2 separate regions of the Homo sapiens genome follow, and region 1 is linked to region 2. The links come from fine-mapping of genetic effects on gene expression. Tissue or cell type: skeletal muscle. Region 2 holds a variant in brackets; the other region holds the start of a gene. All regions are shown on one strand. Distances are from middle to middle.

Region 1 (9,277 bases), 31 kb after region 2:
ACAAATTTTCAGGTATAAGATGAATACGTTCTGGGGACCTAATGCATGGCCCAGTAACTATCGTTAATAATGACATTTATTTCCATAATTAACATATATTGTATACTTGAAATTTGCTAAGAGAGTAGGTCTTAAGTGTTCTCATCCCACATACAAAAAAAGAGGGAGCTGTGTGAGATGGTGGATCTGTTAATTAGACTGATTGTGATTATCAACTCACAGGGTAGATCTAAGTATCGCACAGCACACCTTAAATATATACAATTTTTATTTGTCAATTATACCTCAACAAAGCTGGCAGTAGTGGGGAAGCAGTAGTTCATCAGAAAAATGAACACTTATGGTTACGGTAGGTAAAGAATGACTCATAAAGAAAGGATTTCAACAGCAGTTAAAGGATAGATAATACTCTGACAGGCAGAAATGAGGCAAGAGAGCATTCCAAGAAGGGAGTGTCTGTGATATCAAACTAAGGAGTTTGAACTCCATTCTTTCATCAACAGTGAACCCTAGAAGACTTCAGAGCAGTGAATTTATAAAGAAGGCTCTCTGGAGAAAGTAATAGAGTTAAAAGGGTGAGAAATGGGAATGCTGGGAAAATACAAATAAAATGGTCTTCCTGAGGTCAACACAGTTAATCACATACCTGATCCAAAGCTTGGTTCTTTTGACATATCATTGTTTTTTTCCATGATTAGCACATACCAATGGGAACTAAGTTTTTGCTCAGGATTACTAAACGACATATAATTTATTTTATAAGCCTAGTAATTATTTGCCCATTTCAGCTTTTTATTAGCTACCTACAACAGTGATATCTCACAAGATTTATATTAACACACTAACATCTAACACACTAACATATAACATGTCTCTTCATCCCTTTTATACACATCTGTCTTTTACAGTTGATGTTCAAAAATACTTCTGAAGCTAATTTAAATGTTTAAAGTCGGTGACCTGAAAAACGAGAATGTCTATACATCTAATTTAGAATGGCTAAATTCAAAGATACCATTCTGATGTTCACATATATAGACTTTCATAGTCACAGTTAGTATATTAAAGGAATAATTCTGGGCCCTCAGTACAGTACAAAATGTAATTCATCTCACACTACACCTACGTCAATCATAAATCATAACCTACCTTATGCAACAGTTTCATCCTCAAAGCTGAAACTAGTCCTTTTACAATAACCTTAGCAGAAATGTACCAACTGCCCCCAGTCAAGTTCTACCTCTACCACCCCAATCTAGCCTACACATACTGAGCCTTTTTTTAACACCATTTGGGGGGCTCCAAAATATAATATTGGGGCTCCAATATAAAAAAGCTAAGTAACTATCTAGAGGCTCTTTTGTTCATAAACAACACTATACTGTATTTCTCAAATTTGGGGTAGGAAATAATTCTGAAGAGATATGAGTCTAAACAGTGGAATTCCGAATACCTACTTAGAATAGAGGACAGTAGGTATAAGTAGTACATAAAAGTTCATTAGAAGACCCATATAATGTACAGTTAGAGATTTTAATAGAGATTCAGTCTTATGAATTATCACTGTACACATACAATTTCCACAATTCTTTTGAACATTGAAACAACCAGCTTAGACTACTAAACGACTGTCCCTTCCACAAGGCTAGTTGTCTCTTTTTAAAATATATCACTCCTAAGAGAGCCTGATTTACTAAGTGAGCCCTAACAAAATTTCAGGTAAGCAAATCTTGTTTTATCATCTCTACGAGCATGTCTCCCTGCCTTCAAATGCCCTCAAGCAGCTGTAAGACTTCAACTCTGTAAAATCCTGTAGATCTTCACATATTATTATAAAACTACTTGTATCTACAGCCTCTCAAAAATCAAAGCTTTTAGCAGCTCCATGAGAACTTTTTAAACCAATTCACTCTAAATTATGGAAGTATAACTGATAGCCCTTTAATTTACCTAAAGGCATTTTCACTTTTAAATGAAGTTTGTTAACCTAATTAACTTACATACTTTCAGGAAGTTTACAAATTAGAAAATCAAAATGAAAACTTTCATACAGAGTAAGAAAGGGCATATCCCAGGAAGAGAAGATTGGAAGCTGGAGTCTAGCATATGTATCCCACTCACCTAGGCATGTAATCATACACCTTATAATCACTTGGTTCAATATTTGATTTTTTTTTTTTTTTTTTTTTGAGACAGAGTCTTGCTCTGTCGCCAGGCTGGAGTGCAGTGGTGGGATCTTGGCTCACTGCAACCTCTGCCTCTTGGGTTCAAGCGATTCTCCTGCCTCAGCCTCCCGAGTAGCTGGGGCTATAGGCGTGCACCACCACGCCCAGCTATTTTTTTGTATTTTTAGTAGAGACGGGATTTCACCATGTTGGCCAGGATGGTCTCGATCTCTTGACCTCGTGAATATCTGATTTTTTTCAGTGACAACAAAGCTGGTGCCCAGAGACCAAGGTTAACCACTCATACTACAGTACTATACAGCCTCCTCTAAGGTATTCCTGCATTTCATTTCACTCCAGACCTCTAAACCCATGGGTTCCCTACAGCCTAACTTTTGCACAACAGAACTTAATAGTAGGGGTCCCTGGACTTCTGTGGAAAAAGGAAGTTGCATGTGAGGTGGGAATTTGAAAGAAGAGTATGAATAGTTTAAATTCCAGAACTGCCTTGGATTTCTAGATGTCGTATGTAACTCCAAAACCAAACAATAGACATGCTTAAGAATATTCACAATGTCCCTAAATTAAAGCATATGTTTATGCTTCTCTTATGGGGGAATAAAGTGGTTTACAGGCTTCTGGTCAATTCATAGGTCATATTGTTTACTTTTATTTAAAATTAAGTTAGGTCTGCCTTTTTAAAGGTAAGAAAAGTTAAATTTTAGACGAAAGTCTAAATTTGTTACATTCAAAAGGAATTATGTATTAAATTCAAAAGACAATTTAAATTCAAGTTCTATTTTTTTCTGCATGTGCTTTAAAGTTGAGTTATATACACCTAAACAAATTAAAAATTATTCAACTGGCATATACATTGTAAACGAATATCTCATTTAGGAACCAGATGATACTTTATATATATTTACACATATGTTTATATATATACACACACACATACATACATATATATTCAAAATACAATCAGGCACTAGACAAAATAGTCATATTGTTGGTATTACGATTTTATAAGTTTGTTTTGTTCTGATTTGCATTTGAAAATTAGATCAGCCAAAACTTGATGGCAAATAGTCTGATTTACAGCCCAACTATGACAGTCAAAGGAGACACCAGAATTACCCGTCACTAAATCCCATCACCAGTATTACCAGGGAAGTGGGTGAGGACTGTCAAGGGCATTACAGGTAATGGAACAGCAACACACAAAGATTTGGGGATTTTAACAAACTAAAACCAGTATTTCACGAACACCTAATAAGGACAAGATCACAACCTATCCCCACATGGTCAAATTAACTTGGAAAGGAGAAAAACTTCACTCTGACATCGATTGGTACTGCCTTCTTTGGGGAGGAAAAAAAGCATTTTTATACTCTGAACTCTGTCGTTCTCATAGACAAAGTTATAGCAGTGTTTGCAGAGAGTAGGGAGTATCCCATCCACCACTTATTTCTTTCTCATATCTACTCAGTAATTCAATACAAGAAAGAAAAAGATAACCAGGACTTAAAGCAAAAACAGAATTCAGTTCCATGCTCCTCCCAAGCCTTATTATTTCCAGGTGTTATAACTGGGAGTTCCGCGGACAGATTTGAGTTCTACTTCCGCTCCTTTAACCCCCTATTCCGAAGAGTCCAAGAGCAGCAGCAAAGAAAAAGACCAACTCGAAAGTGGGGAAGGGATGTTGGGGTTAAAGAGGGGAGTTAAATAACCAGACCTTTAGTGAAGAATAAAGAATTCAGGCTGTAGTTTGTAGAAATAAGTTATTACAGGCCTGTAAAGTCTGGCGCTGGGTAAAGCCCAAGAGGCTTTCCCTAACTCCAAAACGGCGACCTTTAAAGTAAGGGAGGGTTGGGGCACCACAGCGGCCGGATTTCTAATTGTGGAAAGTTTAAACAAATTTGTCCCTCGGGGAATGGGGGAAGGGAGAGAAGAACAAGTCTGGGCTCGGCCGGGGAGCGTGCGGAGTCTGCACGCCGCGGCCGTCGGTCCAACGCGGGGAGGCTCAGGGATTTTCGGCAGCAGCGACTTCATCCACCCCGGACCGCCGGCTGGAGGACGTGCCTGCAGCCGGCGGGTACCTGCGGCCAATTCGGTGGAACGAGGACGCGGACTGCGAAGGCAGGTGGGTCTGGCACGAAGGGGCAGGAGTCCTAGGCTCTGGGTGGAAGTTGGGGGTGGGACGGCGCCGGGAGGCCGGGGAGGCAGCGGCGAAAGGCGGCGGGCGGCTCTACTTACTCGGCTGTACCAGATGCTGAGGCGGGCCGCGGCCAGCACGGCGAAGAAAGCCCTCTGCGGGTCGGACTGAACGTGGAAAGGCGCCTCGGCCGGGCTCCCCAGAGGGCACAGCAGCCTCTTGGGCCAGCCGCTCAGAAAATACATGGTCCGTGCGGAGCCCCCGGCGCCCCCAGTTGCGTCCGTCACACTCAGCGGCCCCGGGCTGGTCGCCCACCTCCCACACCGCCACCGGCCGAGTCGGCGGCGGCGGCGGCGGCAGCTCGGGGCATCTGCCCGCTGGCCTGGCCGGGCCGGGCCGACGCAAGGCTGCGCGACGAAGGCACCCCCAAGCTGACGGGGCCGAGTGTGGGGGAGGGAAGGGGAGGGAGAGTAGGGACACAGAGAGGGCGGGAGGAGCGCGGAGGCCCGCCCCGACCCCGCCCCTTCCTCAGGCCGCGCGGGCGTCACCACGCCGCGCCGCGTGGGTCGGGCCGGGGAGGGCCCGCGCGCGCGCTCTGGAGACTCCTGCGGTCTCCCTAGCTGTTTCTTGAAGCTCTGCATAAGCCTCGCCCGCGGCCGCCGGGTTGCGTCCGCACTTCTGCGCGCTGGCCCCTCCCTTGCTCCTCTCCCTAGCAGTCTCCAGGGTTTTACCGGGAGGACCTAGGCAACGGCCTGAGACTCCGAGGCAAGTGGGGCGAGTCTAGGGATAACGCAGCAGCAAGGCTACTGGGCCGGTGGAACACGCCCTGGCCTGGCCAAATTGGACCTCCCTTCCGGATTGGCGGGGTCTCGGTGGGGGCGGGCCGGTTGCCGGGGGGAGCTGGAGTCACGTGACGGCCGGCGCGGTTTCCCACTTTGGGCTGCCGGCCGCTGTGGCTGTGGTGGGCGGTAGGGGCTTTTACCGTGTGAGCTCCTTTAATGCCGGGGTCTGCAGTGAGAGCTGGTGATGAAGCTCCTGCCGGTGTGGAGCTTACATCCCTAAGGGAGCGTTTATTTAATCAGTAAATAAACCACTCACCATGAAAGTATTGAGTTCTGTCTCCTGCCTTTCAGGAGTTCTAAATCTATGTCTTTGAAATCCATTTCCATTCGTCTCAGCCTTACCAGCCATAACTTTAGATGAGAGGAGGCTATCTCTTTCGTGCTGCAAAAGGCTTGGACTTAGTTTTAGAACTGGAAGGGACTGGTGATAGCGTAGGTCCATATTTAGCTTTTGGACCCCAGGTATCACCTTAGCTGTAACTTTCAACGGATTGACCCAGTGGTAACGTCTGAATAGAAGGAGGGTTGAGGGGATATGGTGTGGAATGGGGGAAGGAGGAGTCTGAAATAGAAGAAAGATTTGCTTCTCATTGTCTACCTTTTTTAGTACAGTTTGAATTTTTCCATATGTTTGTATTACTTTTTCAATTAAAAAGCCAGGTTTAAAAAATGACCCCACATTAAAAAGTAGCAACGTAGGCGGGGTGCTGGGGCTCACGCCTGTAATCCCAGCATTTTGGGAGGCCGAGGCGGGCAGATCACTTTAGGTAAGCAGTTCGAGACCAGCCTGGCCAACATCGTGAAACCCCCGTCTTACTGAAAATACAAAAATTAGCTGGGCGTGGTGGCAGGTGCCTGTAATCCCAGTTCCTCAGGAGGCTAAGGCAGGAGAATCGCTTGAACCTGGGAGGCGGAAGTTGCAGCAAACCAAGATCCCTCCACTGCACTCCAGCCTGGGCAACAGAGTGAGACTGTCTCAAAAAAAAAAAAAAAAGTAGCAACATAAACAGAAAAAAGGAAACAAAGAAACTTAATTCATATTAGATATAGCATTGTAGCTGGTATTCATAACCAAATATGTAACTTTCTGTAATTTTTCTAAACATTCACTGCATTCCCTGGAAGGTGATGATAGAATCCTGTATTCCTCAAATGGAGGTTGAAACTGCCTCACCACTCACCAGCCTGTTGCGATCAGATTGTCTCCTTGGCGTCTACCCTCCCCCAGTCCAACACAGCAGCCTGGAACATAGTAAGCATAGTAAGCTGGCAGTATTTGTCAGACAAACCGTGGAGGAAACCCTGATCCAGCTGAGCTACACCATTAGACAAAGAGGCCCAGAGAGGTTTCTTAACTTGCCAATTTCAAATTGTAGAATAACAAAGTTGCATCATACTTTCATCTTAGATTCAGTTATGCACTTGGCAGAAAGAGGAAATGAAAATGTTCTAGTGCAGCAATTTTGCTGGCAGTGTTACTGAATGTTTGTCCCAGCTGTCTCTCAGAGAGTCTTTGTTCTCATGTGTCTCAAGTTTGTCATACTGTGCTCATGGGCAATTTAAGGAACTTCTAAGCAATTTTTATTGCACTCAATTTTAACCTTACTTGCTGACTTTAGAAGCTTATTCCTCTGCCACACTCCTGTGTAGCACTTAAGATTCACAAAATAATTCCAAATGCTTGTCTTGATTTAATTCATAGTAAACATTCAAGGTGAGTGACATTGGTGTGATGTTGTTATTCTCACTTTCTCAAGTGAGGAAACAGGACAGGTGTGGTAGATGTGCCTGAATTCACATGGCCTGAAAAGAACTGATGTTCTTTCTACAGATCCAGTGTGATTTCTTTCTTTTTTTTTTTTTTTGAGGTGGAGTTTCGCTCTTGTTGCCCAGGCTGGCGTGCAATGGTGCCATCTCAGCTCACTGCAGCCTCCACCTCCTGGGTTCAAGCAATTCTCCTGCCTCAGCCTCTGGAGTAGTTGGGATTACAGGCATGCACCAACATGCCTGGCTAATTTTGTATTTTTAGTAGAGACGAGGTTTCTCCATGTTGGTCAGGCTGATCTGGAACTCCCGACCTCAGGTGATCCGCTCACCTCGGCCTCCCAAAGTGCTGGGATTACAGGCGTGAGCCACCGCACCCAGCCTCCTGTGTGATTTTTTTAAAAATTTAAGGTTTGGCTGGGCGCGGTGGCTCATGCCTGTAATCCCAAAACTTTGGGAAGCCAAGGCAGGCGGATCATGAGGTCGGGAGTTTGAGACCAGCCTGGCCAATATGGTGAAACCCTGTCTTTCTGCTAAAAAAAAAAAAATACAAAAATTAGCCAGGCATGGTGATATGCACCTGTCATCCCAGCTACTCTGGAGGATAAGGCAGGAGAATTGCTTGAACCTGGGAGGCAGAGGTTGCGGTGAGCCGAGATCGCTCCACTGCACTCCAGGCTGGGTAACAGAGTGAGACTTTGTCTCAAAAAAAAAAAAAAAAATTAAGGCTTATGGCATCCCTGCATCAAGTAAGTCTATTGTTGCTGTTTTTCCAACAGCATATGCTCTTTAGGCTGAACTAAATTGTGGTAATTGCTCTGGACAGTGAGAGGGAGTGGGGGAAACCTCTAGGTCTTTCTCCCTGGCGGGGAGAAAAGGAAATATCTGACTCTCCAAAACCCTATACTTGAGAGTTCCCCTATTGTGACAAAAATGTTATTGGCTGGATTTTTCAACATCATTTCTTTTTCTTTCTTTCTTTTTTTTTTTTTTTTTGAGACAGAGCATTGCTTTGTCACCCAGGCTGGAGTGCAGTGGTGCAATCTTGGCTCACTGCAACCTCCGCCTCCCGGGTTCAAGTGATTCTTGTGCCTCAGCCTCCTGAGTAGCTGGGACTACAGGCATGCACCACCACGCCTGTCTAGTTTTTGTATTTTTAGTAGAGATGGGGTTTCATCATGTGCCAGGCTAGTCTCCAACTCCTAGCCTCAAATGATCCACCAGCCTCGGCCTCCCAAAGTGCTGGGATAACAGGTGTGAACCGCCGTGCCTGGCTTCAACTTTCAAATATCATATTTTAACTTTATTTTGTAAAATATACTGACAGTTCTCATGCCTTAGGTCTTCTCCTCCTTTTTCTACTAGTTTCCACCACCACTCCTGTCAAAATTTTTGGACTCTGTTCTAAGATTAAGCTTATGATAAAAGTTAGTAGGGGGCCGGGCAGGGTAATCACGCCTGTAATCCCAGCACTTTCGGAGGCAGAGGTGGGCGGATCACTTGAGCCCGGGAGTTTGAGACCAGCCTGGGCAACATGGTGAAACCCTGTCTCTACAAAAAATCAGTCGGCACTGTGGCATACACCTGTGGTCCCAGCCCCTTAGGCGGCTAAGGCAGGAGAATTGCTTGAGCCTGGGAGGCAGAGGTAATAGTGAGCCAAGATCATGCTATTGCACTCCCACCTGAGTGAAAGGAATGAAATCCTGTCTCAAAAAAAAAAAAAAAAGTTACTAGGTGCATGTTTTCATCTATGAAACTTATAAACTTTTTAAATTACTAGAAATAATGTTGGTAAGAGTACACATAAGAAATGGGGATACATTTATACTCTCTTGATGGAAGTATGATTTGGTGCAATTTTTTTTTTTAATATAAGGTTTGTGGTAACCCTGTGTTGAGTGAGTCTATTGGCACCATTTTTTCTAATAGCATATGCTCACTTCATGGCTCTTATCACATTTTGGTAATTCTTTCAATATTTGAAACTTTTTCATTATTAGTATATCTGTTATGATGATTTGTGGTCAGTGGTCTTTGTTGTAACTATTGTAATTGTTTTGGGGTGTCATGTACCACATCCATGTAAGATGGAGAACTTAAGCGATAAATGTTATGTGTGTTCTGACTGTTCCATCAACTGGCAGTTCCTCTGTCTCTCTCCCTTTCTTTGGGCCTCCCTATCCCCTGAGATGCAACAATATTGAAATTAGGCCTGTTAGTAACCCAACAGTAGCCTCTAAGTGTTCAAGTGAAAGAAAGAATCCCCGTCTCTCACTTTAAGTAAAAAGCTAGAAATGATTAAACTAAGTGAGGAAGGCATATTGAAAGCAAAGATAGGCCAAAAGCTAGGC
Region 2 (9,277 bases):
CAATGTGAGAGATAAGCAGCCAGTTTAGAGAGGAAGTTAACTGACCTATTAGAGCTGAGAAACACACTACAAGATCAAAAAAGACAAAGGGCATTACATAACAATAAAGGGTTCAATTCAACAAGAAGAGCTAAATGTCCTCAATATATACGCTCCCAATGTAGGAACACCCAGATTCACAAAGCAAGTTCTTAGGGACCTTGAAAGAGACTTAAACTCCCACACAATAATAGTGGGAGACTGGAACACACCACTGACAATACTAGGAGGAGCCAGTTTAGAGAGCAACATAACCGACCTGTTAGAGCTCAGAAACATACTACAAGAACTTCACAATGCAATCACAACTATTAATAGCAGAATAGACCAAGTGGAGAAAAGAATCTCAGAGCTTGAAGACTATCTTGCTGAAATAAGATAAGCGGACAAGAATAGAGAAAAAAGAATGAAAATGAATAAAACCTCTGAGAAATGTGGGATTATGTAAATAAACTGAACCTAAGACTGACTGGGGTACCTGAAAGAGATGGGGAGAATGGAACGAAGTTGGAAAACATATTTCAGGATATCATCCAGGAGAACTTCCCCAACCTAGGAAGACAGGCCAACATTCAAATTCAGGAAATGCAGAAAACCTCAGTAAGATATTCCCTGAGAAGATCAACCCCAAGACATATAATCATCAGATTCTGCAAGGTCAAAATGAAAGAAAAATGTTAAGGGCAGTCAGACAGAAAGACCAGGTCACCTACGAAGGGGAGGCCCATGAGACTAACAATAGACCTCTCAGTGAAAACCCTAAAAGCCAGAAGAGATTGGGGCCAATATTAAACATTCTTTTTTTTTTTTGACAGAGTCTCGCTCCGTTGCCAGGCTGGAGTGCAGTGGTGCAATCTCAGCTCACTGCAACCTCTGCCTTCTGGGTTCAAGCAATTCTCCTGCCTCAGCCTCCTGAGTAGCTGGGACTACAGGTATGCGCCACGACACTCAGCTAATTATTTTTGTATTTTTAGTAGAGATGGGGTTTTTCACAATGTTGGCCAGGATGGTGTCGATCTCTTGACCTCGTTATCCGCCCGCCTTGGCCTCCCAAAGTGCTGGGATTACAGGTGTGAGCCACCACACCTGGCCAATATTAAACATTCTTAAAGTAAAGAATTTCCAACCCAGAATTTCATATCTGGCGAAACTAAGCTTTATAAGCAAAGGAGAAACAAGATCCTGTTCAGACAAGCAAACGCTGAGGGAATTCGTAACCATCAGACCTGCTTTGCAAGAGCTCCTGAAGGAAGCACTAAATATGGAAAGGAAAAACCATTACCAGCCACTACAAAAACACACTGAAGTAAACAGATCAGTGACACTATGAAGGAACCACATAAGTCTGCAAAATAACCAACTAGTATCTTGATGACAGGATCAAATCCACACATAACAATACTAACCTTAAATGTAAATGGGCTAAATGCTCCAATTAAAAGACACAGAATGGCAAGCTAAATAAAGAACCAAGACCCAGCGGTATGCTGTCTTCAAAAGACCCATATCATGTGCAAAGACACACATCCCAAAATAAAGGGATGGAGGAAAATTTACCAAGCAAATGGAAAACAGAAAGAACCACGGACTGCGATCCTAGTTTCTCACAAAACAGACTTTAAATGAAAAAAGATAAAAAAGGCAAAGGGCGTTACATAAAGGGTTCAATTTAATAAGCGCCAAATATCCTCCATATATGCACACACAGTATAGGAACACCCAGATTCCTAAAGCAAGTTCTTAGAGACCTTCAAAAAGACTTAGACTCCCACACAATAATAGTAGCAGACTTAACACACCATTGACAATATTAGGCAGATCACCAAGACAGAAAATTAACAGATATTCATGATCTGAACTTAGCTCTAGATCAAGTGGACCTGACAGATATCTACAGAACTCTCCATCCTAAAACAACAGAAACTAATTGTTCTCATCATCACAAGGCACTTACTCTAAATTTGATCACATAATCGGAAGTAAAACACTCTTCAGCAAATGCAAAAGAACTGAAATGATAACAGTCTCTCAGACCACAACACTCAAAAAAATTCACTCAGAAGAATTAAGAAATTCACTCAAAACCACACAACTACATGGAAATTGAACAGCCTGCTCCTGAGTGACTTGAGTAAATAATGAAATTAAGGCAGAAATCAAGAAGTCCTTTGAAACTAATGAGAACAAAGAGACAATGTACCAGAATCTCTGGGATGCAGCTAAAGCAGTGTTGAGGGAAATTTATAGCACTACATGCCCACATCAAAAAGCTACAAAGATCTCAAGTTAACAACCTAACACCACAACTAAGAGAACTAGAGAAACAAGAACAAACCCAAAAGCTAGCAGAAGACAAGATATAACCAAGATCAGAGCAGAACTGAAGGAGATAGAGACATGAAAGACCATTCAAACGATCAATGAATCCAAGAGCTGGTTATTTAAAAAAATTAATAGAATACATAGACTGCTAGCTAGATTAATAAAGAAGAAAAGAGAAGATTTAAATAAACACAATCAGAAATGATAAAGGGGATATCATCCTGACCCCAAAGAAATACAAACAATCATCAGAGAATACTATAAATGCATCAATGCACATTAAATAGAAAATCTAGAAGAAATGGATACTTTTCTGGACACATACACCCTCCCTAAGACTGAACCAGGAAGAAACTGAATCTCTGAATAGACCAATAATGAGTCCTGAAATTGAGAAGTAATAAAGAGCCTAGCAACCCAAAAAAAAAAACCAGCCCAGGACAGACAGATTCACAGCTGAATTCTACCAGAGGTACAAAGAAGAGCTGGTATTATTTCTACTGAAACTATTCCAAAACAATTGAAAATTAGGGATTCCTCCTTAATTCATTCTATGAGGCCAGCATCATCTTGATACCAAAACCTGGCAGAGACAAAACAAAAAAAAAGAAAACCTCAGGCCAATATGCTTGATGAACATCAATGCAAAAATTCTCAACAAAATACTGGCAAATATCCAGTAGCCCATCAAAAAGTTTATCCATCATGTCCAAGTAGACTTCATCCCCGGAATGCAAGACTGGTTCAACATACACAATTCAATAAATGTGATTCATCACATAAACAGAACTGAACACAAAAACCACATGATTATCTCAATAGATGCGGAAAAGGTCTTTAATAAAATTCAACATCGCTTTAGGTTAAAAACTCTCAATAAACCAGATATTGAAGGAACATACTTCAAAATAATAAGAGTCATATATGACAAACCCACAGCCAATATCATAATGAATGGACAAAAGCTGGAAGCATTCCCCTTGAAAAAAGGCACAAGACAAGGATGCCCTCTCTCACCAGTCCTATTCAACATAGTATTGGCAGTTCTGGCTGGGGCAATCAGGCAAGAGAAAGAAATAAAGGGTATTCAAATAGGAAGAGAGAAAATTAAACTATCTTTGTTTGCAGATGACATGATCCTATATTAGAAAACCCCATTGCCTCAGCCCAAAAGCTTTGTAAGCTGATAAGCAACTTCAGCAAAGTCTAAGGATAGAAAATTAATGTGCAAAAATCATTAGCATTCTTATACATCAACAGGCAAGCAGACAGCCAAATCATGAATGAACTCCCATTCACAGTTGGTCACAAATGAATAAAATACCTA[G/C]CAATACAGCTAACAAGGGAGGTGAAGAACCTCTTCAAGGGGAACTACAAACCAACTTTCAAACAAATGACAGATGACACGAACAAATGGAAAAACATTCCATGTTCATGGCTAGGAAGAGTCAATATTGTGAAAATGGTTATACTACCCAAAGTAATTTATAGATTCAATGCTATCCCCATTAAACTACCACTGACATTCTTCACGGAATTAGAAAAAAGCTATTTTAAAATTCATATGGAACCAACAAAGAGTCCGAATAGCCAAGGCAATCAAAGCAAAAAGAACAAGGCCAGAGGCATCATGCTACCTGACTTAAAACTGTAACACAGGGCTACAGTAACCAAAACAGCATGGTACTGGCACAAGAATAAACACATAGACCAACGTAACAGAATAGAGAACCCAGAAACAAGAACACCCACCTACACCATCTGATCTTAGCAAACCTGACAAACACAAGCAATGGGGAAAGGATTCCCCATGTAATATATGGTGCTGGGAGTACTGGCTAGCTGTATGCAGAAAATTGAAACTGGACCCCTTCCTTACACCCTAAAGGAAAATGAACTCAAGATTGATTAAAGATTTAAATGTAAAACCCAGGAAGAAAATCTAGACAATACCATTTGGGACACAGGCACAGGCAGAGATTTCACGACAAGGATGACAAAAGCAATTGCAACAAAAGCAAAAATTGACAAATGGGATCTAATCGAACTGAAGAGCTTCTGCACAGCAACAGAAACTATCATTGGAGTGAGCAGATAAACAACAGAATGGTAGCAAATTTTTGGAATCTATTAATCTGACAAAGAAAGGTCTAATATCCAGCATCTACAATGAACTTAATAACTTACAAGAAAAAAAAAATCCCATTAAGAAGTGGGCAAAGGACATGAACAGACACTTCTCAAAAGAAGACATAAATGTGGCCAACAAATACATTTTAAAAAGCTCAACATCACTGATTATTAGAGAAATTCAAGTCAAAACCACAATGAGATACCGTCTCACACAAGCCAGAATGGCTATTACTAAAAAGTCAAAAAACAACAGGTGCTGGTTAGGTTGTGGAGAAAAAGGAATGCTTTTACACTGTTGGTAGGAGTGGAAATTAGTTCAACCATTATGGAAGACAGTAGGCAATTCCTCAAAGACCTAGAGGCAGAAATACCGTTTGACCCAATAATCTCATTACTGGGTATACCCCCCAAAATATAAATCATTCTATTACAAACATTCATGCATGCATATATTCACTGCAGCACTATTCACAATAGCAAAGACATGGAATCAACCTGAATGTCCCCCGATGATAGACTGAATAAAAGAAATGTGGTACATATACACGATGGAATACTATGCAGCCACAAAAAGGAACAAGATCATATCCTTTGCAGGGACATGGTTGGAGCTGGAAACCATTATCCTCAGCAAACTAACACAGGAACAGAAAATCAAATACCACATGTTTTCACTTATAAGTGGGAGCTGAATGATGAGAACATATGGACACATGGGGGAAACAACATACACTGGGGTCTGTTAGAGGATGGAGGGGCAGGGCGCAGGATGAGGGAGAGCATCTGGAAGAATAGCTAATGGATGCTGGGCTTAATACCTAGGTGATGGCATAATCTGTGCAAGGAAACCACCATAGCACATGTTTACCTATGCAACAAACCCACACATCCTACACATGTACCCTGAAGTTAAGTTGGAAAAAATCAGATATATGTCTACACACTTGGAATGAACAACTGAAAAGGAAACTTAAAAACAATTCCATTTACAATAGCATCAAAAAGAAATTTAAAACTTAAAAATAAATTTAATGAAGCAGGAAAAAGACTTGCATACTGAACACCAGAAAACACTCCTTACAGAAATTGAAGGTCTAAATAATTGATAAGACATTGCATGTTCATAGGCTGGAAGACTTAAATTAATGCTTCCCAAAGAGAACTACAGATTCAATGCAGTCTCTACCAAATTCCCAATGGTATTTTTTACAGAAATAGAAAACCAGTTCAAACAGTCATATAGCATCTTAGGGACTGGCTCAGAATAGTCAAAACTATAGATGATACTGAACTTATGATGGTTCAACTTACGACATTATGATGGATGTTTGGGGCTGTTAAATTTTTTACTTATGGTATTTTCAACTTACAATGGGTTGACAATGGGTTGACATGACTTATATCCTGAAATACAACAATAAAATTGGAGGATTCCACTTCCTGATTTCAAAAGTTACTACAAAGCCACAGTAATTTAAAAACTGTGGTACTGGAATAAGGACAGACATATATAACAATGAAACAGAATGGAGCATCCAGAAATAACCCCAAATACCAATGGCCAATTGATTTTCAACAAGACTACCAAGACCGTTCAATGGGAAAAGAATAGTTCTTTAACATATTGTACTGTAACATTTAACATAAAGTACAACTTTTTTTGGTAATATACATCCACTAATGAGAATTAGATTCTTTTTGTGGAAATAACCTTTTTGGTAAATTGGGGTTTAAAGTACTTTTCCCTATCATCAAAATTGAGTGCAAATTTTCATCTATTAATGCTGGTCCTTAATGACATTTTACATAATTCATATTTGAAAACATTTTCTAATACAGCAAAAGCTATTTTCCAAAGTTATTTAGTGTCTGTTAAGTGGTAGATGGTGGTCCTTCAAGTAAAGAAAAAAAAAAAAGTCAGTCTCGGTAAAAAAAAAAACAAAAAAACTTTCCAATAAACTTTTATCACTACCCAAGCCATAACAGCTGTGGAGGAGGGCAATTCAAGATATTCCTGCTTCCATCTCTGAAAAAACTTACACTAACCATAGGTTTTAAAAGTCTTATATTTTCACAAACTTTGTAAATCTGTCCAACTAAGTCTTTTGCTGCTCCATGTGGATTTTTACTACTATCAATTAATACAACTTCTTAGATTCTACTTCGGGTTGTACTGAATTAGTATTTTCTCAACTCCTTTGAGAATTTTTTTCATCTGGAATTGTTCTGCAGGTCATTCACAGTAATTCTTAGTCAATTCATACTTCACATGGACCACTGAAATTTACAACTGAGCAGTATTATAACATCTGTCAATTTATCAAAAACTAAGCAAACTTACTTTTACTGCACTTTCATTTTCATATTTTATTTTTGTGAAGGAATTTTGTGGTGAGCTGTTCTGTGCTAAATTTTTTAATTCTTCTAACTTAACCTTCAGTACATTCTGATAAGTGCTTAGTCTAGTGATGTCAGCTTATATTCTTTTGGCATAGCTATAGTGCCATTGAATAATAAATACAATATTTTGCCATCTAATTCAATAATAAAAGAAACCACACTACAGTGTGCTTTAAAAACAAAACAAAGTCTTTTTGTCTTCTTTGGTTCTTTTGACATGAGTATGTACTAGAATAAAAATAATATAAAATGTCACAGAATGGCAATATGTGTACACTTGAAATGTTATGAAGTTACAACTGTGTTACTACACAGTGCATTGAACAGAAGAGCAAAGCAATGAGAGCACCACATACACTTGCTGTAAGAACTTCAATTCAATCTGCTATTGTAGCTTGAAAGAAGTTACAGACAATACATAAATCAGTGAGGATTTTCGTGCCCCAGTAAAATTTTAGTTATGGACACTGAAATTTAAGTATCACATAATTTTCAACTGTAGCAAATATTCTTCTTTGACTTGTTTTGATTATTTAAATATGTAAAAACTATTCTTACATTATGGTCTGTGTACAAACAGGCACCAGGGCATATTTGGTACATGGTCAGTCATCTGCAAACTCCTGCTATAGGAAGCGTAGAACTACTCAGTATTTTTCATCATATGAACATTTCAGACTATTAACCTAGTCAGTGTTATATACAGTATGGACTAGAAAGGGACCAACGCAAAGAGATAAATTAGATATAAGGATATAGTAAATGGAAGCTGAGTAGCTAAGTTTATACCTTATCTCTCTAATATACACTACGCATGTAACCTTGGATAAGACAATTTTTCAGATCCTCAATTTACACATCCATTATGAAGGATAATAATATCTACTTCAAAGCACTTATCTAAAGATTAAATGGGATGATCCATGTAAACTGATTACAATTGTACTCATCGGATAGGAGGTGCTCAATAATGTTAATTAACCACATATATTACTGCTAATGCATATTAAGTCATAATGACAGCCTTAGACAGTGATGAAACATGAACTGAAAAGGTAAAATTAAACATATCTAGGCACGTTTAATAGAACAGAAGAAAAAAAGGAGAAACAGATCCAAATGGATATGGAAATTTTAGTATAACATATGCACATAAAGCTTATTATTTTCTGGAATATCTTTTGGAATGGAAGGGAGGAATTTAAATATAAATTCAAGAATATCATGTGAATATGTTTTAAAAAACTAGATAAGACTTCAAGGACAAAACAGTAAAGTGAGAACAACAAACAGAAAAGGATATAGGTGCTATGTTTAGGGATGGAAGGAAGCAGCAGAGTCAAAACAGAAGCTATAGTAGGAGTAACACGCACAGAATAATTAGTAAAGCAGTTAGACTTCAAGGGCAAAACAGTAAAGTGAGAACAACAAACAGAAAAGGATACAGGTGCTATGTTTAGGGATATAGGTGCTTTGTTAAGGAAGTAGCAGAGTCAGAAGAAAAGCTATAGTAGGAGTAATCCACATAGAATAATCAGTAAAGCAATTCCTATCAGAATAAAATAAATACTTATGAGTGCAAAAGACTGAAAGAAAGTCATCTAAGAGAATCAAATTTAAATGCGATGTAATGATTTCATAAGAAAACACTATTTAGCGGTAAAATCTACTTACTGATACAGCTATCATGGTACTATCTGGCCTCCATTCAGCTTGCTTGTAGGATCCAAACTGAGTAGATGATTTTGCAGGCTCCTTGTAGGTTACAATTAACACACTAGGCTGTGTGATTAAAAAAAAAAAAAAGTTGTATTTTTTATCAATATCTCATAAAAATACACAAATAAAATTTAAGATAACAGAGTATTCAAAGTATTTTTACAGTAAAATAAAAGACAATATTGATATTAAACTATCGGCTTTCAACATTGCAAGCATATCAACCAAAACAAAGACCTAAACCTACGCCTGTATTATTAAAGAAACTGAATTAATAATTAATAATCATCCAAAACAGAAAGAACCAGGACTAAATGTGTTCATAGGTGAAGTCTACCAAACGTTTAAGGGAGAAATTACACCAATTCTTTACAAAGCCTTCCACAAGATAGAAGCAGGAGTACTTCCTAATTTTGAGTCCAGCATTCCCTTAATACCAAAATCAGAAAAGGATATTACATGAAAAGAAAACTACAGGCCAGGCGCGGTGGCTCATGCCTGTAATCCCAGCACTTTGGGAGGCCATGGTGGGCGGATCACAAGGTTAGGAGATGGAGACCATCCTGGCTAACACAGTGAAACCCCGTTTCTACTAAAAATACAAAAAAATTAGCTGGGCGTGGTGGCAGGCGCCTGTAGTCCCAGCTACTCAGGAGGCTGAGGC

Evidence for each region. PIP is the estimated chance that this variant, and not a neighbour inherited with it, causes the effect.
Region 1: it holds the start of INCR1, and the variant in region 2 is fine-mapped to the expression of INCR1 in skeletal muscle (GTEx, PIP above 0.99). The same link has a PIP of 0.9 or more in whole blood.

What each region holds. Positions count from the first base shown.
Region 1 is chr9:5,624,598-5,633,874 of GRCh38, reverse strand. INCR1 (interferon stimulated noncoding RNA 1) reads left to right here and starts at 4,148. Exons shown (of 3, transcript XR_007061406.1): 1 at 4,148-4,308. RIC1 (RIC1 partner of RAB6A GEF complex) reads right to left here and starts at 4,768. Exons shown (of 26, transcript NM_020829.4): 1 at 4,422-4,768. The coding sequence starts at 4,565. RefSeq lists enhancers at 3,948-4,448, 6,359-6,578 and a silencer at 4,469-5,008.
Region 2 is chr9:5,655,982-5,665,258 of GRCh38, reverse strand. RIC1 (RIC1 partner of RAB6A GEF complex) reads right to left here. Exons shown (of 26, transcript NM_020829.4): 2 at 8,569-8,676. Among named protein-coding and RNA genes, the nearest start is that of INCR1, 31 kb to the right of the region's middle. The variant G/C (reference allele first, on the strand shown) is at 3,689.